2 linked regions of the Homo sapiens genome follow. The protein of the gene in region 1 binds, or shares a complex with, the protein of each later gene. Each region holds a gene or a part of one and is shown in the gene's direction. Other genes may lie near its edges.

The links.
Region 2: the proteins of NTRK1 (region 1) and NGF are in contact, whole or in part, in a crystal structure (PDB 1WWW), measured with the Homo sapiens proteins. Residues at the interface, in NP_002520.2 of Homo sapiens: His291, Val294, Glu295, Met296, His297, Cys300, Pro302, Phe303, Ser304, Leu333, Glu334, His343, Gly344, Cys345, Arg347, Thr352, His353, Met379, Asp380, Pro382; in NP_001424474.1 of Homo sapiens: His125, Pro126, Ile127, Phe128, Arg130, Gly131, Glu132, Phe133, Ser134, Ser138, Ser140, Trp142, Tyr173, Phe175, Arg180.

Annotation. Positions count from the first base shown.
Region 1 is NC_000001.11:156,863,865-156,870,864, forward strand, and holds part of NTRK1 (high affinity nerve growth factor receptor isoform 2 precursor), read left to right. Parts: intron 1-489; coding exon 490-564; intron 565-863; coding exon 864-935; intron 936-3,045; coding exon 3,046-3,114; intron 3,115-4,239; coding exon 4,240-4,385; intron 4,386-4,640; coding exon 4,641-4,783; intron 4,784-7,000. UniProt on the Homo sapiens protein: Receptor tyrosine kinase involved in the development and the maturation of the central and peripheral nervous systems through regulation of proliferation, differentiation and survival of sympathetic and nervous neurons.
Region 2 is NC_000001.11:115,330,995-115,347,239, reverse strand, and holds the start of NGF (beta-nerve growth factor precursor), read left to right. Parts: upstream 1-8,990; 5' UTR 8,991-9,036; intron 9,037-16,245. UniProt on the Homo sapiens protein: Nerve growth factor is important for the development and maintenance of the sympathetic and sensory nervous systems.

The DNA of each region.
Region 1 (7,000 bases):
CAGGGATGCCTGATATAAAAGGAGAACACCAATCTGAGAATGGACTTGTGTGTGTGCACGTGAGAGATGGACGTGAGCTTTGTTTCTGTGTGTCCATGGGTGAGCGTGTTCCTGCAGGCACATGTGCAGGTGCATGGCGTCATCTGTGCAGATGCTTATGCCTCTGTGTGTGCGCATGTGCATACCTAGGTGTGTGCATGTGTGCAAGAGGTATGTGAGAATGTGCATATGTGTGAGGGTGTGGGGATCCATATGTATGTGCGCTTGTGTGTTCATGCACACACATGTGCATGTGTGACTTGAGGTGCGTCTCTGTGCACATGTATGCATTTGTGTGTGCACGCCTGTGTAAGTGTGTATGCAGGTCTGAACAGGTGCATATGCGTGTGCATGTGGCATGTGCATGTGTATTGTGAGGGAGTAAGTGGGTGGGCATGGGAACTCAAGTGTGGGCCTGAGCCCTGTGACTCCCATCCGCTCTCCCCACAGCTACATCGAGAACCAGCAGCATCTGCAGCATCTGGAGCTCCGTGATCTGAGGGGCCTGGGGGAGCTGAGAAACCTGTGAGGGAAACGGGGACTGTGGGTGTGGAGCTCAGCATGGGCCTGGGGGAGACCAGAAGGTCAGGGAGGGCTCAAGCATCCGAGGGCCTGGGAGGACCTGAGAGGCTGAGCACTGAGGGACTGGGAGAAGTCAGGAAGCTCAGGGCTTTGAGGGGTCTAGAGTAGTTGAGGAAACAATGAGGGGCCTGAGGAGGGGTAGGGGTTCAGCACAGGGGACTGGGAGGCTGGGATGGGCAGGGAGGGCCAGGGGCCCAGAGTAGCTGAGACCTGGGGACTGATCCTCCTGCACCCCTCCCCAGCACCATCGTGAAGAGTGGTCTCCGTTTCGTGGCGCCAGATGCCTTCCATTTCACTCCTCGGCTCAGTCGCCTGTGAGTGTGGCCAGTGCTGGGCAGTGGGAGTTGGGGAGGACACCCAGACTTGGGCTGCTAATGGGCTTGGCTGTCCCCGGGGAATGATTGCGAGGAGGGCCCAAGCCTGGTCAGGGAAGTCACCTCACCATTCTCCTGGGGCTTCCTCCCATCTCCCTCAGGGATGGCATGCTCTCGCCCCTGACAGCTAGAGGTCCTCCTTGCCATCTCACTTCCATGGTCCATGCTGCAAGGACACTTCTCATAGGTGCCTGCCCTATCTTTCTTCCCAGGGCTCAGATACACACCAGTGCAAAGGGAGCAAGCGGCAGGAGCAGGACTCCTGGGTTCTGGCTGGGACTCCATTTCCCAGGGACTCATTGACTTGGCCCCTAGGACATCCTGGGAGCTGGGGTGTTAGGTCTGCCACTTGTCACCCTCCTCATTCCTGGGAGTCATAACTATCCCTCCTGTAGAGCAGTGGACCCCAACTTTTTTGGCACCAGAGACTGGTTTCATGGAAGACAATTTTACCACGGATGGTGCGGGAGGAGAGGATGATTTCAGGACGAAACTGTTCCACCTCAGATTATGAGGCATTAGTTAGATTCTCAAAAGGAGCACACAACCTAGATCCCTCACGTGCGCAGTAGTTCACAGAATCTAATGCTGCCATTGATATGACAGGAGGCGGAGCTCAGGCGGTAATGCTCACTCACCGCTGCTCACCTCCTGCTGTGTGGCCCGGTTCCTAAGAGACCACATATTTGCCCTGTTTATAGCCCCTCTTCCTTGCTGTGCTTCTCTTTTTCTTTAATTTATTTTTTAAGAGTCAGGGTCTCCCTCTGTTGCTCAGGCTGGAGAATAGTGGCACTATTACCCATCTGTGGCCTGGGAATTGGGGACCCCTGCTGTAGGACAGAGAGGGTCATGGGATGGGCAGGAGAGACTATCAGAGTCCCTGGCAGCCCCTCCCTGGCCTTCTGAGGGCAGGAGTTCAGCTCCCCTGTCCCCCAATATGAGCAGGCAGAGAGATGGGAAGGATGGTGGGGCTGACACTCATGGAGTTATGCAGGGTCCTCTAAACTCTGCTGTGTCCAGCAATTTAACAAAGCAAAATAAAGTGATGTCATATCACCGTCTATGCACCGGGGCTTCAGTTAAAAACGTGCTCAATGACACTTCACGATACTTATGTCAATGAATCTTCACAATCAACCTGGTGAGAGAGAGAGTGTTCTTGTCCCCATTTCATAGATGAGAATTCTGAGAATCAGAGAGGTTGAGTTTCTGGACTGAGGTCACACAGCTGTAAGTGGCAGGATAGAACTTACACCTGCTCTAGCTGGCTCTAGAGTGGGTTGTGTCTTTGGTCCCTATGTGGTGGTACTTCTCCCACCCAGCCACCACAAATTCTAGGTTGGCTAGGAAAGAAGAGGGGTCAGGATAGGCCCCTCAGAGGCAGAGGGTCCCAGCAGCGGCAGCCTGGCACAGGGCACAGGGCACTGGGGCTCCTACATCATTTTCCTGTGTGGCCTGGAGCCGGGCCCCTGCTGGGCTCACTTTTTCCATCCATACAACGAGGGGGCTGGGGGTGTGGGGGTGTGGGTCCTTTCCTGCCTGACCTTTTAGTCCCTGAGGAGGGCCCGGAAGGAGGAGGAGGAGGGGAGCTGAGGAAGTGCGTGGAGTTCCTTGTGGTCAGGTAGGGGCAAGGGAGTGGCAGCCTCAACCCTCCCCCTCTTCCTCTGGCCCCGTCCTGGGCTCTGTAGGGAGGGGAGCACAGATGGACCCCTTCCCCCAGCTGTGGCCTCAGCACTTTGCCAGCTGGGGCCAAAGCAGTGGGGGAGGGAGGAGCGGCTGTTCCCTCAGATCCCCCTCCCTGGGGTCTGGAGAGGGGGTTAAGTGGGGTTAACCCTTGTTGTCCCAGGGAAAGGAGTGGGACTCAGAAAGTCCCCCCACCCCCCACCCCACCATCTACACACACTGCCTTCCAGGGCTGGTTCTGGTTGCCTAGGCCGGGGCGGGGGAGCCAGATGTCAACTTCTTTCTTGGCTCCTCCCCTCCCTCATTCTGGTCAGAGTGAGGTCGGGTCACTCAAGGGGTCTGTCTTGCTGTGTCTCCACGCCCGCAGGAATCTCTCCTTCAACGCTCTGGAGTCTCTCTCCTGGAAAACTGTGCAGGGCCTCTCCTTACAGGAACTGTGAGTGGGGGCGCTTCCAGGGGCAAGAGCACCAAGTGTGTGTGTGCCTGTGTGCACTTGGGTCTGTTGGATGACATTGGGTCACTGTGTCTGTGTGACACTGCTGGGGGGTCTCTTTGGGGACTATGTGCATGCCAGTGAAACCCCCATCAAAGCAGGGGCTGCAGGACTACCCGTTAAGGGGGCTACTGCCCTGAGGAGCTGGCCTGGATGACTGTGTGTGTGCTGGGCCTGGCTGAGCAGATTACAGGCCCACTGTGTGTCCAAGGCACATCTGCCCACATTCCCAGGGCACCCTGCACAGGGGTGAGTGGGGCAGCAGGGGTCCATGTGTACCTGGTGGGCACTTAAAGCCTCTGGGTCACTCTGGGGGGCTGTGCCCTTCCCTCCTTGTCACCATGCTGAGAGCCCTTGCCTGGTTTCTCATCCTGGGGAGCCTGGGGTGAGGGAGCCCCATGCATCCCTCAGACGTCAGCTGTCTTGTCTTCCACTTTCTGCATTAGATTTCTTTCATTTTTACGTTATTTTTTCTTTTTGTAGAGTTGGGGTTTTGCCATGTTGCCCAGGCTGATCTTGAACTCCTGGGCTCAAGCCATCCTCCGCCTCGGCCTCCCAAAGTGCCGGGATAACAGGTGTGAGTCACAGCGCCTGGCTTATTTCTTTTCTTTTCTTTCTTTCTTTTCTTTTCTTTTCTTTTTTTTTTTTTATGAGACGGAGTCTCGCTCTGTCACCCAGGCTGGAGTGCAGTGGCACAATCTCATCTCGGCTCACTGCAAGCTCCGCCTCCTGGGTTCACGCCATTCTCCTGCCTCAGCCTCCTGAGTAGGTGGGACTACAGGTGCCCGCCACCATGCCTGGCTAAGTTTTTGCATTTTTAGTAGAGACGGGGTTTCACTGTGTTAGCCAGGATGGTCTCGATCTTCTGACCTTGTGATCCGCCCGCCTCGGCCTCCCAATGGCCTATTTCTTTGAATAACATCCTGTTACTGGAGTCAGAGAGAAAGACCTCTGTGTCCTCCCTTTCACCTGTAGACGGTCCTCCCTGCTGCCTAACTGCTCCCTCTTATCCCCTGTGATCCCTCAGGCCCTTTCCTTGACTCTGTTGGTGTCCCCCATGCCCCCCAGGGTCCTGTCGGGGAACCCTCTGCACTGTTCTTGTGCCCTGCGCTGGCTACAGCGCTGGGAGGAGGAGGGACTGGGCGGAGTGCCTGAACAGAAGCTGCAGTGTCATGGGCAAGGGCCCCTGGCCCACATGCCCAATGCCAGCTGTGGTAGGTGCCGGGTGAGGGAGGTGGTGTAAGGGGGCTGGGGAAGAGACCTACCTGCCTGAGGGAGAGGGCACTGAGCAAGCACTGAAAAGGCCTGGGGAATGGGCACTGGCAAAGGCTGGGGGAAACTGCCTGGGGTGACATCGCCTGGGCTCCAGGTCATTGAGGAGGGTGGGGGAAGGAGCAGCCCCGCAGTAGAGTTCTGGGGCCACTCCCAGCTCTAACACCCCTTGGCCCTCGGGCGTCCTGGGTGGCCAGGTGTGCCCACGCTGAAGGTCCAGGTGCCCAATGCCTCGGTGGATGTGGGGGACGACGTGCTGCTGCGGTGCCAGGTGGAGGGGCGGGGCCTGGAGCAGGCCGGCTGGATCCTCACAGAGCTGGAGCAGTCAGCCACGGTGATGGTGAGAAGACCTTCGCTGGCAGCCCCCAAGAGGTCCAGGCAGAGCACAGGGGACAAAGATGGGGAAAGAGAGACACACTGTGGAGGAAAGAGACAACGAATAAGGAGCACACTGAGGTTGAGGGACGGACAGAGATGGTTTAGACCCACAGGGCTCAGGCCTATGCTCTGGGGCAGCCCAGGGCACGCACACACCCTCAGGGTGGGCACTGACCCAGCAGGGACCCCAGGCTATACTTGAAGCCCCAGGACTTAGAACCCCTTTCTGGGAACATGGTGTTGGCTGCAAGGGAGAGGGTCACAGAAACCTTACATGTTGGAGCTGAGAGGAACCCAACAGACCATCCCTCCCGTACATCACTTTTCTCTCTCCCTTCCTTCCTTCCTTCCTTCCTTCCTTCCTTCCTTCCTTCCTTCCTTCCTTCCTTCCTTCCTTCCTTCCTTTTATGGAGTTTCGCTCTGTTGCCCAGGCTGGAGTGCAGTGGCGCGATCTTGACTCACCGCAACCTCCGCCTCTCGGGTTCAAGCGATTCTGCGATTCTCCTGCCTCAGCCTCCCGAGTAGCTGGGAGTACAGGCACGCGCCACCATGCCCAGCTAATTTTTGTATTTTTAGTAGAGACAGGGTTTCACTACGTTGGCCACGCTGGTCTCAAACTCCTGACCTCGTGATCCACCCACCTCGGCCTCCCAAAGTGCTGGGATTACAGGTGTGAGCCACTGTGCCCGGCAGATCACTTTTCTATATAAGGAAACTGGAACCCAGGGAGGAGGCACAATATCAGTTGTACTGCATCCGGGATGAGTTCTCGGGGGTATCGTGGTCTTTTTTCTGGAGATTCTGGAAGCAGCATCCTCTTGGGCATGTGATGAACGTATTAGTAAGGGAGGCATAGGTCTGGCTCCAGCTCTCTCACTAATTAATTCTGGGAATGACTTTCAGAAAAATCCCTTAATCTGCCTGCACTTTGGTTTTCTTATCTGTAAGCTGAGAAGGTGGACATGATGGCCTTCTGATGTCCTGCCTGCCCCTGGGCGTTCTCTGGCCTCTATCTCTGTTATCCATACATGCCTTTGGACATCTTCCCAGGCCTTACCCTTTGTCCTTAGGCTGGCGATGGGCCGATGAGAGTAGCCACAGGTAACTCAGTCGGCCTTGTTGACGAGGTCAACGGCAGCTGACAATGGGCTGTGCCCACCCAAAAAGCTGGCTCCACCTGGGCAGGAGGAGTGGATATGCAGGGACCAGGAATGTGTGCCTGGGGGGCTGGGAGCATGGTGTTTATTTGGGGAGCCTTCACTTTGGTGGGAGAGTCCACCCCAGAATTGCTGGAGGCCCCTGGAACCATGTTGAGGGAGATGCCACTGGGGCGCTGAGCAGGGGGCTTCAGACATGGTGGAGGGACAACTAGCCACTGAGCAGTTCCTCCCTGCTCCAGAGAGCAAAGCTGCCTAGAGTGAGTAAAAGAAAGGGGACCAGGCAGAGGCCATACCCCTGCATGGAGAGACCTTAGATCAACTCTGTTTGGGGTGATTCCAGGATTTGCTTTCTCTTTGGGAGACTTACATGTTTGCTACCATCTGTGTTTTCTAGAAACTACCTATACAAAAGTCACTCCCTACTGGGCACAGTGGCCCATACCTGTAATCCCAGCACTTTGGGAGGCCAAGGAGGGATAATCACTTGAGACCAGCAGTTTGAGACCAGCCTGGGCAACAAAGCAAGACCCTATCTCTTAAAAAAAATTGCACCCTAAATGGGTTAAATGGAGGAGAAGAGAGGCTGCTCTCCCTCAGTTAGGAGGATAAGGGGTGGCAGACCAGCTCAAGGGGAAGAGTTATTGGCCCCACAGTAGTTGGAGGGGATGGGACAGCCAAGGGAAGCAGAGGGCAGGGCAGGGCTTCCCCTCGAAGTGGCTGGAACCCAGAGCTTGCACAAAAGGCTGGAAACTCTACTGGAACCTTTGAACTCACATATTCCAATGGAAGCCTGGGGAAACCATACCTCCTCTGGCATGTGGTCAGAGGATTCCACATTTATAAAGTTTTCGGATAAATGAGATTTATCCACCACTTCATTATTTTCATTTTGTGAAAATCACTTTCTAAAATGTCAGAAGATAATTTGTCCACCTCTTCAGCTTACAAAACAAACAAAAAACCCACAGTTCAGCAAGATGAAGAATTGTCGTAAGATCATGTAACTTACACATGACAAA
Region 2 (16,245 bases), about 42 Mb from region 1:
TAAGAATGGAATACCTACTGCATGCAGTCATGGTGTTATGTGCTGGGGATGCCAAGGCCCCTGCCACCCCAGAGAGTAGCTTGTAAAGGAGGTGGGGAGGAGAAGGGGGTCAAACGAGCAGATAGGCCTTTATAATACAGTGTGTAGACTGCAGAGTGTTGTGGAGACCCAGTCAGAGGGGATGATGGGGTCACAGAGGAGGACACCTAACCCAGACTTGGGCAGTAAGAAAGTCACATTTGCACTGAAGTCTCAGAAATGAGGTGGAGTTGGCTTAGTGAAGGAAACACAGAGCAGAGAAAGCGTCCCAGGAAGAGGAAGGAGCATGTTGCAAAGGCCCAGAAATGAGATAGAGCATTATTCATGGAAGTCAATACAGTCTGTCTGTGAGCAATCTTAAAACCTAAGCAAAATGATTTCAGGGCCTGCCCATTGACCTTGTATTCTCCCAATTATCTTCTTCACTCCATTTACAAACTATCTCCTCCATCTTTTGAGTTACCTCTGCTGCCCACTGAAATGCAAATACTCCTGCAAGAACCAGTGGACTCCAGTGGTTTCATCTCAAGCCCAGCAAGTATTCTAGGCCATTTACTGAGGGTAGGATTGAGACCTGAAGATGACCTAAGGTCCCCTAGAGCAAGGCAATTTTTGCCAGACTCAGAATTTGGCAGAAGTTGAAGTCCTGCTCGAAGCAAGCCTCTTGTCAAATAAGGGGTGATGCATGTTTCCCATTGGCTCTGTAGCAGCTCAGCCTGTAATTCCACACAACGGAGGCACATCTCCAGTACCTGAAGAGGACCTGGGAACCCCCTACTTGTCCAAAACTGCTGCTTACATAACAGTAGTACAGCTTTGAACTGAGCATGGCTGAAGGGGCACAGCTAAAGGTCATGGTGGAGTTAAATCAGCCAGCACATCTGAGTGACAAAGACAGTCTTCTTAGCTTCTACCATGCTGACAAAAATTGATTTGGTTCTTTAAGAATTTTCCCAATTATTAGTCTGTAAGGTATAGTACTGAGGGCATGAGCTTTGCAGACTGTCTTAGACCATTTGTATTGCTATAAAGGAATATCCAAGGCTGGGCAATTTATAAATAAAAGACATTTATTCAGCTTAGGATTTTGAAAGCTGCACAGGGAGCACAGCACTAGGATTTGCTTCTGGTGAGGACCTCAGGAAGCTTCCACTCATGGTGGAAGGTGAAGGGGGATTGGCATCACATGGGGATAGGAAAAATGCAAGAGAGAGGGGAGGGTGGTACCAGACTCTTTCAAATAATCAGAGCTCATGGAAACTAATAGTGAGGCTTCACTCATTACCGTGAGGACAGCACAGGGCCAGCCATGAAGAATTGTCCCCTTGACTCAAACACCTCCCACCAAGCCCCATCTCCAACATTGGGGATCAAATTTCAACATGAGATTTTGAGGGGACAAATATCCAATCTGTGATATAGATACAGACTAGGTTAGCTATTTGCTAGTTTTGTTCAACATGATTATTCAAACCCTCTGAGCTTAATTTATTCATCCATATGAAATGCATTTGTTGAAAACCTATTATATTTCAGGTATTATGATGGAGTTTAAGGTTCCTGAAAATTTTATAGTTTAGTGGGGATAGCAGATTGTTATTTATTGTACAAATGTGATAAGGAATGCATAGGTATTCTCTTTCACATTTCCCAGTTGTGTGATCCCCCCCGATTCCGCCAGGGGCATATGATTTTCACAGGGTACCCTTGGGACTGTTGCAGCTGGAATGCAAAGGGAAAATGTCCATATACATCTTTAGCAAGACATTTCATAGCGAGACAGTGGTTTTGAAAGTCAGTCATTCTTGTGAAAGAAAAAAAGGGGAAGGGATTCTGAATTTCTTAAACTCTCACAGATTATAAAGAGCCAGGCTTGGAGAGCTTGATCATAGAGTTTTATGGGAAAGGCAAGGTGGTCATCCCCTAGGGTACCCAATTGCTCTCACACTTTGGCCTGCACCTCAAGGTGGAGAGTGAGTATTATAGAAATAAACAGGAAGGAGGGAACCAGGTAACACTGGAGCGAGTGATCTGTTTCCCTGGGTTCTAGCCTCTGGGAGATGCCCCATAGTTGGTATGGTGCCAACATGGTGGACAGTGAGAGTGTGGCTTGATGGGGAGGTAAGTTCTCAGTGGAGACTCTGAGATGATGCTACTGGTTGCCTTCAGCCTGTGTGCAGTGTGCAGAGACAGCTAGCCTCGACATCATTCCTGATCTCCAAACTCCATATGTTGCACATATGTCCTTGAGTATTCCATGGGCCCAGCAAAATCCTAAATTGAAGACCCCTGCTTCCAAGGCCACTACATAGGCCCCACCTCTGGATGCTCCATCTCCATAGCCAGCACCATCATTTACCTGCTCAGGCAAATCAGGAATCCAAAGGGCACCCAGGAGACCCTTTTCTCACCCTACCCCTGCATCCAGCCATTCCCCACTTCCTGATGAATTTACACGCTAAGTTTTGTTTGAATGTCTCCTCTGCATGCTTAGCTCCCCATGCATGGATCAGGCTGCTGCCATCACCGTTCACCCTGACTATAACTACCGGCCCTAGGTGGTCTCTTTGCATTTGGTTTCACCCTTCATTATCCATGCCTTCCTCGACCTTCCCAGTGACTGATCCAGCAGTATCTCCTACCACGTCATGCCCCACCAGTTCTGAATCAGCTGCAGTTTCCCGTACGCAACATACCATCTCACACTTGCACACCTTGGTTAAAAGTGTTCCTTCTGTCTCAAATGATGTCCTTCCCAGCATTCTTCTCCTGGCTCCTACACATGCTTCAAAGCTTATCTTGGGCAATATCTCATTTTAAATGATTTATTGAGCATGTGTTTTGTGCAATATGGAGGGCTGGAGAAGCACCTAGAAAGGGCACTCAGTCTTGACTTGGAGGATCAGGGAAATCACCTGACTAGAAATGTCATTGAAGATTCTCAGAGCTGAGTTTCAGAGGAAGAGGAAATGGACAGGTGAAGGAGTAGGGAGAAGGCTAAAAGTTTTTGAAGCACTGGAAACACCATATAGGACCTGTGGGGCTGGTGCTGCTTGTGAAATGAACTGAAGTAAATTCACCACGGCAGAGGCTAGAGCAAAGAAAAGAAAGTAGCAAGAAAGGAAGATGAAGGGGCTGGAGGAGCCAGATGACACAGAGCCTCGTAAGTCTCTTCAAAGAATATGGAATTTATGCAAAATGCAATGGGATGACAACAAAGGCAAAGCTCTAAGTTGGTTGAATTTCCCATCTCTCCAGCTTCTAGATCCTCCCTTACAGATTTCTTATCAGTTTATGTGTCTGATGCCCCATTGGATAGTAGGTTCCTATATAGCAATAATCATTTCTTCTTGATCTTTGTTTCCTTGTACCTAACACAGATTCTACCCCAGGATAGGATTTTAATAAATGCAGTGAGCTCAGTGTCACCACTGAAGGGACAGAGATCTACCCAGGATGTGGCAGAGCCCATCTATCCCAGACTCCTGCATAGGAGCATCACAAATGAAAGTGTGGGGTTCTTGCCTGCCTCAGCACCACAAAACCTTAATTGTCAACATGATACCATGTGACAGGAAAGAGCAGCTGTGATGCTATGCAGGCAAACTTGATCCCTGGGGAATCCTGCCCCAGAGGTATCTCTTGGGTGGCCCTAATAGGAATGTACCAACTCCAGGGCCAGGGAGGGTTGTATAGTGAGGACCCAGATGGAGGCACACTTGAATTGGCTGTAGGCTCGTGAGGGACACTGAGGGTTTGGCTCAGTGGGAGAGGAGTGAGAGAGCCTCAGGGGACTCTGAAGAAAGCACCAGTGAAAGCCACAGGGTCACCAGGGGTTCTTGTGGAGACCAGTTCCTGTGGAGACTGGAGTCAGACCAGCCTGAAAAGGTGGAGGCTCACAGCTGTTTGAATCGGGACAGCAGAGGAGAGGATCCAGTCCCCAGAGGGCTCACCTGACTCTCCTTGCACCTAAGGAGATCATTGACTTGGTTGGCACTGACTGTGTCTGCATCTGTCTCACTCACCTGCCCTGCAACTCACCAAAATCACAACTGACTTTTATGGGCCTGGCATATAATATACATTAAATAATGCACATTTATTAAATAGGTGACGCAAATTAATATAATTTAAATTCCATGTATCTACTGGGGACTACTAGAGTGGGGAGGAAGGAAATGGGGCAAGGGTTGAAAAACTAACTGTTGGGACTATGCTCACTATCTAGGTGATGAGATCAATCATATCCCAAGTCTCAGCATCAGGCAATATACCCCTGTAACAAACCTGCACATGTGCCCCCTGAATCTAAAGTAAAAGTTGAAATTATTAAAAAATTTAAAAATAAAAAATTCTATGTGTTTATAGGCTGTTTTGTTCATTTGCTGAATCCCCAGCACCTAGAATGGGGCTGGCACGTAGCAGGTGCTTGAAAATTGTTTAACATATTCACTCCATATAATGAAAAGTAATTATTATTATTACGGCTCAAGGAGGGTCAATCTTTCTCCCAAGGACACACCACTTAAGAGGACAGATGGGCTAAATCTTGCCAGTTCCAAACTGGTGACTTTCCTGGGCTGCAGGAAAAGAGCTGAACTGTCCTGGGCCCACGTGGATTTCCTGACCTTTCAAGAATGGGATCTGTGGGGCAGCTGCCTGGCTGAGTTAAGAGCAAGGGCTTTGGATGGAGGGGCTGAGAGTCAGAGGAGAGGCAGAAACACAGTCCTCGCCAGGGCCTGTGCAGATTCGCTGAAACAAGAACCTAGGTAGTGCTTCGCACATAACACTCAAAGTGTTGGTGATTAAAGGAGAGGCCAGAGTTGAAACCATGCTTGGAATTATAAAATTAGTAGAAAAAAACACCTGGAAGAACAAGAGTGGAGGAGAATGTAAAGCCCCAGGACTGAGTTGTGGGAGGCCCATGAGTGCAGAGGGCAGATGAAATCAGAGAGGTGGCTAGTAAGCCAGGATAGTGTGGTCACAGGAGTTCTGAAAGGAAAGTTGTAGACAAAGGAGGTCATGAATAGAGTGGACTAGGACTGTCAAAGTCAGCTGAGCTTGGCTGAAAGGAGGAGGAGGCGTGGCATTTAACAGCAAGGGATTGGGTTCAATTCTCTACTCAGCCGTTTGGCTAGCTATGAGACCTGGGAAGTGACTTACCTCTCAGAGTTTCATCTTATCTACAAATCAATAGGACCAATTAATAAGGCTAGGAAAAATGCCTTGCCCAGTACTTGAAATAAGGCAAGCACTAGATAAATGCTGCTGAGATTGTGTTGGTGTTGGTGGTGTTCTTGCAACTAACGACCTTTAAAAAAAATTATCAGTTTAGTAGGGAGAAAGGAAAGGTAGGGGAGGAAGATGGGAACTTGGTTGCAGAAAGTTTCGGGGAGGGGGTGCCAAGGAAATGATGGGTATAGATTACCTTGCTGAAGAATTTGGTAGTGAATGGAAGCTAAGAAATCCAGAGTTTGGGCTAGCAGTTTCTTTAAGAGAGAAAAGGCAAGTGAATGTTCACAAGCAAAAGCGAGGGAACTAGTAGAGATGGAGGAACTGGAGATCTCAGCGAGAAACAGCAAAAGCCAGGAACAGGCCACAGGAGTAGGCAGGGATAGCCCAGAGGAGAAGGGGGCACCCCTGGCCCTCTCTGCACCCTTGCCTACTTTAGCTCCTTTACCAGCTTTTTCCTGTAGACTGAATTGGTCAGTTTTTCTCCCAGCCTCTTTCAGGGAGTGTAGTAAAAGGAAGGCTTGCTTAGAAGTCAAAAAGCCGGACACTGGCCACGTGTATTTGGCTGAGCCTTTGTCCTTCCTGAGCCCTTGTTTCTTCATCCATAAATAAGGTGGCTGGATTGATCATTTCTGTGATTCTGTGAACATGTCATCTCACTAAGCATTATGAAACATTTCCTCTTCTGAAGTTCTTCTTCACTCTGATTAGAAGGAAGAGGAAAAAAAAGTCTTTAAACGGAAGCTATCACTTCCTCCAGCAATTGGGACAATATTTCTGTGTTTCACATGAAGAACTAGCAGATCCAGTGATTCCATCCTTGCTGGCAGATCTCTGCTGAGCCTGCTGGTGTTTTAAATAGCACATGCACTTTGTCCTGGCCTCCTGGAATGAAGCAAGGGAGAAGCCAGGGGTTTGTGCTAGCTGACTGTTGCTGTTGATGAGGCACTCAATGGCTGCAGCCTTCTAGATCTTCAGAAATAACAACAATTACTGTACACGCCACAATCTCTCCTCCAAGTCAGCAAATGCATCAGCTGCTGGTTATTTTGATACCCTGGATAAAAGGCTCTTTCGAGAAAATCTAGTACAGAAAAACATTCTTATCCTCTGCTTGTCTGCACCATTCCTCTGGCCGCTGCCCTCTCAGCTGTTTTTCATTCCTATGAATGTAGCTGGTCCAGGCCCAGAAGTCCTTCTCTCAATGACCCAAGAGAAGGACATTTCTGTTTGAACCTTCTTGAAAGTGGAAGAGGCAGGGGAAAAGGCACCTGGCTGTGGTCTCTGTGCCAAAGGCAGGCTGATCTGGAACCTGCTGGAAACCAATCCAGTGTTGGTGGGTTGTCTGACAGTCACAAATGACTCTGACCGTTGTTGGATTCAACAAGTATTAACTGAGCACCTACTATAGGCCAGGTCCTATGCTAGGACCTAGGGAAACTGTGATAAACATGGCCAGGGACTAATAATCAAGCCCCCACTAGAACATAAGCTCTCTGAGAGCCGGTACCACTGCCAGCACACAGTGCCTGGCATATGGTAGGCTCTCAATCAATAATCTTTGGAGTATTTTTGTGTTTGTTGTTTACATGTTCTTATTTACTCAAGATCCTTGAAGTCCAGGGACAGAAATAGAGGTAGTTAGGGGCAGAAAGGAGCTCTTATTAAATCAACATGTGCAAGAAGAATATGACCAACAATTTAGGGGGTGAGGATGGAGCATATAAGCAAACTTATAATCTGCTTACATCACTTAAAGTTTCCCCCTTACATACCACATGGAAAAGAACCACAAGTGTCCCAAATCCTTTTGTCCTTCTGAATGATGCCACAAGAACACATACAAATGCTCTGCATTCAACAACCAAATTCTCTGTTATTCTAAAAGTTTAATTTCATACCCAAATTCTCAGGCAGCTATTATGTAAGGCTTGGGGCTAGTGCTTTCCAAACAAGTTTATACATGACATGATTGATGGATGAATTCATCCTGTTATCTGGAAATTCTTTTGTTTAATTGACGATGATAAATTTCCTAATGGATCACCTCGACTATGATACTACTTTTGTAGAAAGGGCCATTCACAGTGTTCCCTGGCCTCTTGCCCTCACTTCCAAAGTGTGTTCATACACCAGCCTGTATCTGAACAAGTCAGAAGTGGACAAGCCTAAGGCTGGGAAACAACAAGGTCACACCAAAGCTAAGGCTGACTTCCAATTCCAGGGCTTTTTGCCTATTTCATCCTTCTCAGAGCATGTGTAAATGGAATGAACTTTCTTATGGGAGCAAACGTGAAAATAGAAAGAAGTAAGACCTCAAGACTAATCTGAATCAAGGGAGTTGGAAATGCCTAGTCAGGGCTTCATCTTGCTCAAGTGCCATCCATTAAGGGTAAATGACCACCCCCAGACTTAGGACAGGAATCATCTGCTTCACTAAATCCCAGTTCCCTGGAGGGTGCCCTTCTGCTAAGTTGCACTGGCTGGTGTTACCAGCAATAGGGAGATTCTGTGCCCCACCTTCCCTCCCTGTTACTCTCCTCACACCTACTTCTCCTCTGTGGCATCCATACAGGGTAGGGGTCCAACCCACCTTTGCTATAGGAAGAAGCGAAGGCACAGACAAGCTCAACACGGGAGGGAGTGGGGCTGTAAATTTCCAAAGAGCTACGAATCCCCTGGAATGCTACAATTAATGATGCACATTTGGTGACAAATTTGACTTCAGGGGTATTTCTCCCTTGCTCATTTTATGCTGGGGTGGGAACAGCCCTGGCAGAGGGGCAGGGGAAAGTCAGGCAAGCTCTCCTGTCAGGCTGAATCGAGGGAACTCAAGAAATTTTGAAGGGTCAGGAAGAATTTGTGTGGGGCCTGGAGTGTGGAGAGGGGGGCATGGGGGCCTAGGGTTTGCTGGCTATATCAGTCTGGGGTCACAGACCCCTTGCAAAACTGATGAAAGCTGCGGACCTTCAGCTCAGAAAAGAATATTAGCATTGCACACAGTCGCGCAAATCAGCCTACAGTTTCAGAGGGGCCAAGGACTCCGGGAAGTTCCTGGAACCCAGGGCCTTAAGTTAAGGTCCCGGCTCTAGCTCCTGACTCCTGAAGTCCTCTGCCCCTTGTCCCCATGCTGGACTTGCCGGGCCTGGGGGCCTTCTAGCTGGTTCTGCAGCCGCCTTCCCTTGTCAGAGGAGCTTGGGCACCTGCCCCTCGCGGAGCTCCCCCTGGGTGCTCACCTATCCTGGGATAAGGAAAGGCGCCCCGAAGAAAAGGAGCAGCCGATGCCTGGGGCACCGAGGGCGACGCCGGGCAGACCAGGGAGGCACTGGCGAAGGGCAACGCGCGGGGGCAGGGCGGAGAGGTGAGGGAAGCTGCGAGCAACTCCGCCCAGCCCCAGCCAGTCGGCCCAACGACCCCTGCCGGTGCCCCAGAAACTCCCCCTCCCGGCTTTGCGCGCGCGGCCCCTCAGACCCCAGTGGGTTTCCCTTTGACCTCTGAAGGTTTAAAGTCCTTCTCTGGCTGGGTCTGGCCAGCCCTCCAGGAGCGATCCGTCTGTAGTCCCCAGGACCCCCTCCAGCCGGGCACCACAGCCCAGCCACAGCAGGTGCGGGGCTGGTGGTGGGGAGGGGAGGGATGGGGGCCAGGATTTGGAGCGTGTGACTCAGGAGTACGGGAGGAGGGGCTAAGAATTCAAGAAGCCTGTGTGAGAGCAGCTCGGCGCTCCGGCACAGCAGAGAGCGCTGGGAGCCGGAGGGGAGCGCAGCGGTGAGTCAGGCTGCCCCGAGCCGATCCCGAGAGGGGCGCAGCGCGGGCGCGGGCAGGGGTGGCTGGGCTTCGCGGGAGAGTTTGCAAGGATACCGGTCTGGCGAGCTCTCTGGTTACCCCCGAGGCTCCCGCAGGCCGAAGAGCAGCCCTGAGAAATGTCCCGAGTGGGTGTGGGGGCGCGGGACCCTCGCGGGAGGACGAGTCGGACCGAGGGAACAGCGTTAGTTCTGGTCGTGGAGTCCCTAGTCCCAGGATGGCCTGCAGTCCAGGGAGCAGCCCTGGCGCCTGCAGAAGCCCACGGCCATGCCAGGGTCTAGCTCGAGGGCTAGAAGTGGATAACGCGCAAGTGAGGGAGAGCGAATGGGCGCGGAGAGGGATGCGCCGGCAGCTGGCGCGCCAGGGCGGGAGGAGTGGCGGCCAGCACCGCGGGGGGAGCGCAGAGCGCGCTGGCTGAGGTGAGCGCCGAGTAGGGAAAGTGCTGCGCGGCCCCCAGGTAGGGGGAGGAGCGGAACGGGGCGCGCTAGACCTGGGGCAGTTCCCTCAGCGCGTCTCGGAAGGGCTGGGAGTCGTGACTGAGGGCCCCGGGGGTTAACGCAGGAAGTCTGCGAGCCAACGCCGGGGTCCGTCCGGCGTACCGGGGCCCTCCACGGAGCCGCGTTGGACAACCTCAGGTAGAGGTCGCCAAGGTTCAGCCCTGCCACTTGGGTCACACGCTTCATCTCCAGCTGTCTGCTGCCAGGTGTGGGAGAAGCGGGCGTGGAAGGTTAGGGCGGGGAGCGCCTTGAGTTCAGGCGAGGAGGATCTAGGGGAGGGAGAGAGGACTCAGGGGTCAGGGAGCTGCAACTTTGAGCCAGCAGAAACAAGCAGCTTAGCTCCCTCTAATTACAAACCTCCTTCTAAAAAAAAAAAAAAAAAAAAAAAAAAAAAAAAAAAAAACAAAAACAAAACAAAAAAAATTTCGAGATTCTTAAGGAAGGTGTTTCGTGCTTGAACTTTTTCTTCTCTTGTGATTTGAGAGATTAAAAAAGAGCCTGCTTGCTAGGCTGGTTTTTCCAAGTTGTTCCAGGTTGGAAGTTGTAACAGTTCGAAGGATAATTTATGAGTGTTTCATGCATTAAAGTGTATTACAGCAAAGCCTTTTGGGTGCTGTGGGTATTAAGGAAAACTTAGTGCACGTTCCCAGCTGGAAACCAAAATAGTGCTCTCCTGGGTGCCTCTGCCCCATCTGTCATCCAAGGCCAATGGAAATCCTGTAGAAAAGTCACTTGATTAATTGTTCTGGCTCCATCCTCTGGGCACACCCACTGCCAGTGCCAGTCCCCTCCTCCCCAATCCATGCACAGCCAGCTGCACTCTGCAAATGCAGAAATGACAGTGGAGACCCCATCAGTAACTTCTCTCCAGGGTCCTCAAACTCTTGAAGCCGTCAGTTAAGTCTGCTGGAAGGGAATCTTTCCCCTTCTCGAGGCAGTGCAGAAGGGCAGCAGCCATTGGCCCCTGCCAGCCCTTCTTATCCTGTGTTTACAGTTTCCTCCTGAATGTCTGAAACTTTCTCCCTCTGCAGAGTCACAGAAGAAAGAAGAAAGGCTGTATCAAACCTGATGGGTCTCTTTTGTTGAATAAGTCATACGTCAACCTGAGCAACCCAAATGTCAATTCATGATGGGCAGTGTTTCCAGAGGGTCAGAGGAGACAGGCGGGTCTGGGGGCTGAGACTGGCCTAGCTGGAATTGACTCACACAGAAAGTGAACATTCCTCTTGTTGAAGGGGGATAGGGTTAATGCCACATGTTGCCAAACTCCTACCCCACTCTTTCCCCAACATCTTTATGCAGGTGAAGGGAAAAAGGAAGCACCAAAAATGGGAAGCCAAGATCACTGGGGCATGAGAACACTAATTTGACAGAAGTATAGGAGCACCTCAGAGGATTTTAGAACCAGCTGCTGGCACCACTGCATTTCCAACAGCAGCCCAGGCCCACCAGAGAAATGAACTGGGCCCACTCAGGGCAGTCATCCCGGTATTGGTGACTCTTTCCCTACTTTTAACCTGTACCAAGGAATGAGGTTCTTGCCTTCTCCTATTGCCCACCCCACAACTCTCCTGCCCCAAGGGCCAGTGGGAGCAAGGAATGAGGCTTCACACTCTCATTCTCTTTCAGGGAGAAATCTGTGCCTTGGACAAGAAGGGGGCCCTGGTTGCCGACATCAGCAGGGAGAGTAGGGTAGGGCAGGGCAGGGCTGGAGCCCGAGGGAAGTTTCTCATCATTACCGAGAATAAACTGATGAAAAAAATCACACAACTTTACTTTTTAAAGAGTGCTGAGCACTCCTGCTGCTCATTGATGGAGTGCTTTACTGCAGTACCCTGCATCAGAGCAGCAGGGAAACTACACAGAGATTCAGCCACTGCTCTTCTCTACTGGGCATGGAGTAGGGCCAAGGCCCAGATCCCCAAGCAGATGTCAGTGCCAGACCTGGGAGCAGAGGCCCAGCCATTTACCTTTTCCAAGTAAGAACTTTCACTGACTTCAGAGTCTAGAGCAAGCCTTAAGAGACCTTTGCTGGCAGCAAATTCTCTGATCTCAGGAAGCAGTGGAAGGTTTGCTGACGGCTTGCATAAAATCTCTGGATATCTGTGTGCAAACAACCCATGCTCCCAGAAAACACCTTTCTGTGACACAGAAAGAGTTCCTGTGTGTTTCTTTCACTAGCTGATCTCACAAACCATCAGCTCTCAGGCTTAGCCAGTTCTGAGAAATCACTTCTGTGGTGGACCATTTTGAGAAAACAGTGTACACTGGCATTGGGTAAATAAATGAGGATGAAAGACCCTTCCCCAATCCATTCCCATGAGACATCGCTTGATAACAGTGGGAAAATAGTTAAGATCCTAACTCCAAATAGCAGTAAGGCCAGGATGATCCTGAGGCTGATATGTGAATGGAGAAACTGAGGCTTTGGGGTCCTCGGTCTTTTATTAGGCTGTGCAGAAGCATAGAAACGTCACTATTTGAGCCGAGGAGAATAAACCTTCAGCCACAAAGTTTAGTGAAGACCAGAAGAATGAAAACATGCAATGGAGAAGACTTTCTGGTGGTTCGTGATGTTTTCATTGCTCCTCTCTGGGCTACTTTACATGCTTTTGAGGCCTCAGACTAGGACACAGTAGGAATCAGATTAAAATGTTAGGATGATCCCTTGATATTCTTCTCCTATATTTTGGGTAAACTTCCTGTTACAGTTTCCTCACTTGTGAGAAAGGAAGGGAAGTAGCTTTGTGACCTTGAGCAAGTCGCTAAGCTTCTCAGGCCTCACTTTCCCAACTCATTAGGCAAGTATATTGGATTTATATTGTTTCTGAATGGAGCTGTCAGCATTTTGGGACAATTCTTGGTTAAGTGTGACCAATCTGCACAGTGCAGATAGTTTAGTATTCCTGCCTCACCTCCTAAATGTCAGAAGTCATAGTGACAACCTCAAATGCCCCTCATAAAGGGCTAAGTGTATTCAAAGATAATGCTGCTCCCAGTTGAGAAGTCTTTTGGAAATTACCAATAAGGGCCCTATTGTTGGGGTTTCTGTGGTTAATCATCAAACTGGGGCTCCAGAAGTCAATTCCTGGGCTTCATCCTCCAAGAGCCAGCAAATCAGACTCTAGGCCACCATCGGCAGGGACCTCAGTGCTGTAGTCCCACCAAGTGTCATCCTTTGCCTTTTGTGAGTGAAGTGGACTACAAATGACCCATGGGAAAAGAAAATCAGAAAGAGTAAGGTGAAGGGACAGGTGCTATTAGAGCATGGCAGCTTCCTACTCTGCCATATGTTATTAAAAACACAGGCAGACTGCATGCCTGTGGAGTCTGCAGCACTGGGAGGAAATCCTTCCCTCCTTTGCTAAGTGGATCACACTCTGGCATCAGGAGGTTCCTTCCCTGAAGCAGAAGCCCCCAACACTGACCGCACTTAATACAACATGAGTGCACATTGACATCGAATTAATACAACTGTGCCCAAGCTGTGAAAATAAATGAGAATTGATAACGTGACATTTCCTTGAAAAAAAGTAGGCTAGCAACACTACACTCGAGGGATGGTGCTTGTGGCACTGGGTTTATTCTCAAGTAGAATAGCTCATTATTCTCACCTCTGCTTCAAGGTCTCATTGGGGGACAGAAAATAGAACTATTTGTTTATTTATAGTACCTAGGGTTAAAATGAATAATGTCTTCAGAGGGTAGGAGGGTATTATAGGAACACATGCTTTCTACTCATGCCCAACTCATTACAAGTAGGAGTGAAAAGGAACTGCAGAGCTTGGCGCTGATTTCAAATGAGGGAAAAAAAAGAAAGAAAAGAAAAGAAAGAGAGAGAGAAGAGAGAAAGAAAGAAAAAGAGAAAGAAAGAAAGAAAAGAAAGGAAGGAATGAAGAAAGAGAGAGAGGGGGGAGGGAGGAAGGAAGAAAGAAAGAAAGAAGGAAAGAAAGAAAAGAAAGAAAGAAAGAAAGAAAGAAAGAAAGAAAGAAAGAAAGAAAGAAAGAAAGAAAGAGAAAGAAAGAAAGTCTTAAGGAGCTCCCTCCCCAAATGAGGTTGATCTGATGATGAAATCTGTCAGGTGGAACTAGCAACAATGCTTTTGAATTGCCTAAGACTGTAGCCAACGCATTCACGTGCGGGAAGTCTTTTTTTTTTTTTTTTTTTTTTTAGTAGTACTATTAGTCAGAGTCAGACAGTCAGGATTTCCCTGAAAATCCACCACTGGGCTAAGCAGATTGAGATGTTTTGGCACTTTTGGCACCGCCTGTGGTGGCTTCTGCAGGTGGAGAGCCCTGCGAATGAAAGAAGCTGGCTATGAAATCAGTGGGAATGAACCACCCAAGTTTCACACAGAAGCCCTTCCACATTGGGCAATTTCAATCCACTACTACAGGAACAGTTTCCCAATAACCACGAAGTATTTGTTGTCAGTACAGATGGGCTGATTTTCCCATTTCCTTTGGCTGCTCCTTCAGTAGTCAGAGTTGGTGGTATAGGTCACCTCCCCTCTGTGTGCAGTTGCTAAGTGAGCCCAGGGAGGATGGTCTCAAGAGCTCAGCCCTTGCCCAGGTTAGGGGGTGGGGGAGACTGTCCTGACTTCAGTTCTTCATCATTACAGATGGATTACAACCCTCATTAGTAATGGAGTGACTTGCATGTCTCACTTGCTCAGTCTAGTGAAATGCCAACCCATTTTTGGATCTGAGCAGACCTGGCTGAGAGGTCAACGATTGAGGTACTGCCTCATCACTATGGATATGTATTGAACCCCCATTGTGTATGAGTGATGCCAAGTGGGACAGGCTCCCTTTGGATTATGGAGAACACTTTCAGAAAAAGAAGTCACACTGTTTCTAGCTGCCTGAGAGGTGCTGGACTAGATAAGCAGGGGGAAGGACGGGGTACTCCAGGAAAGTGGAGACATAGGAGGGCCTCTCCTGTCCCTAAGTTTTCTCATCTGTAAGACAAAGATATTAGTAGTAGCTATGCTGTCATCTGGCTGTTGTGCACATTAAGTGGGAAGGCATAGGCAAAACAGCAGCACAGGCCTGGCATGAGGGGGGCACCAACGAACATGAGCTTCCTCCCCTCACGTTCTCCCTTGGAAGGGCTGATCTGAGGGGAGCCCCCACTTCATAGTTGTTTTTTTTTAATTTCAGGTAGGATAACATCTTTTTTGTATGTTTTTAATGTATCTGTGCATATATAGCTTTTCTGTTTTGGGAGGAGAAATCTTTTTGGTTGCATTGAAGACTTCTCTAGGAATTTACTCACTGATATTTTGACCTTCTGTAGTTAACATTCTCATTTTGATAGAATTTTAACCAAACATTTCATCTTGCGATTTATCTTCGCCTTGTAATGTCTGGGTAAGAGAAGACTCACGGAGGTTCTCCTGTAATTTTCTTTCAGAGGCAAACTTCTCCTCAGACTCTTATTTCAGAAATGTTATGCAATGCTCTCTAAATAAGGCATTTCTTGAGAATGACCATGTTTGCTTGCAGCTTTAAGAATGTTTTGCTTCCTTACTCCACGTAACAACTCCTCTGTGTCTTTAGGATTTTAAATGTCTTAGGAATTCTTCAAGTTTACAAGAAAAGAAAGAGAAAGTGAATTTTGCTATGGCAGTGGGGCATTTCTGCTCTCCCAGACCAAGAGCCAAGGGTTAAGCAGCTGTTGCTGAATTACATAGAACCTGTGGTTAAAGGGGAAGATTGTCCTCGCCCCACAGGGGAGGGGGCCCACCATGTATGAGGCTACTGGATAGATTTTCTTCTCTCAATTAGCATCCTTATTAATATGCTACCTGGGACACTGGGCACTCTGGGGACTCAAAATAAATATAAATCATGATCCTGCCCCAAGGAGCTTGCTCAGGAGTCATAACTAAAAGGCTTAGTGGCTCATGAGAGAATATAAATGAGCTGAGGCCAGAGATTGCTGGGGCTGTGAAAAACTAGAGAGGCTATGCCTCATTGTTAAGGGACAGGCCAACCATTGCTGTAAAGGATTATAGGTCCAATACAGATCTCTTCAAGAACTTTTCAAGAAAAGCCAAAACTTTGAGACTGAAAAGCCAAAACTCTGAAATTTCTTCACTTTCCACACATGGGTACAGACCAAACAAAATTTGTCTGCAGGCTTTTTAATCTTCTTATGTGAATTAACACATGGAGCAATTGCAAGCAGTATCAAAACTGGAACTAGTGGAAGTACTAATTCTGTGAATATATGACCTCCAAGAGGGACAGGTCTGGATGTCAAGAAGGCTTTCAGGGAGGCTCCTCGGAGGGCAGTGAGGGGCTGTCCCATAGGCAGGTAGGATTTTACAGGAGTCCTGGCACACAGATAGAACTGGATTTAGGTCCAAGTTCACTTCTCATTAGCTCTGTGAGCACATTACTTAACCCCTGTAAGCCTCAGTTTCTTCATCTGTAAAAGGGAATCATGATGCCAACTGATTTTTGAGGGCAATTGTGAAGGGGAAAGGAGAGAGTGCTGGAAAGTTCTTACCTCAGAGTCTGGAATATAGCCAATGCCCAGTAAGCTGAGGCCCCTTCCCGATGTGGACCCCCTCATTGACATTGCAGACAATTGCTTTTCAAGGATTTTGAATTGCTTTTTCTGCCCCAGGAAAAGCACAGGAGGTCTGGGTTATTTTTCTCCTCTGCTG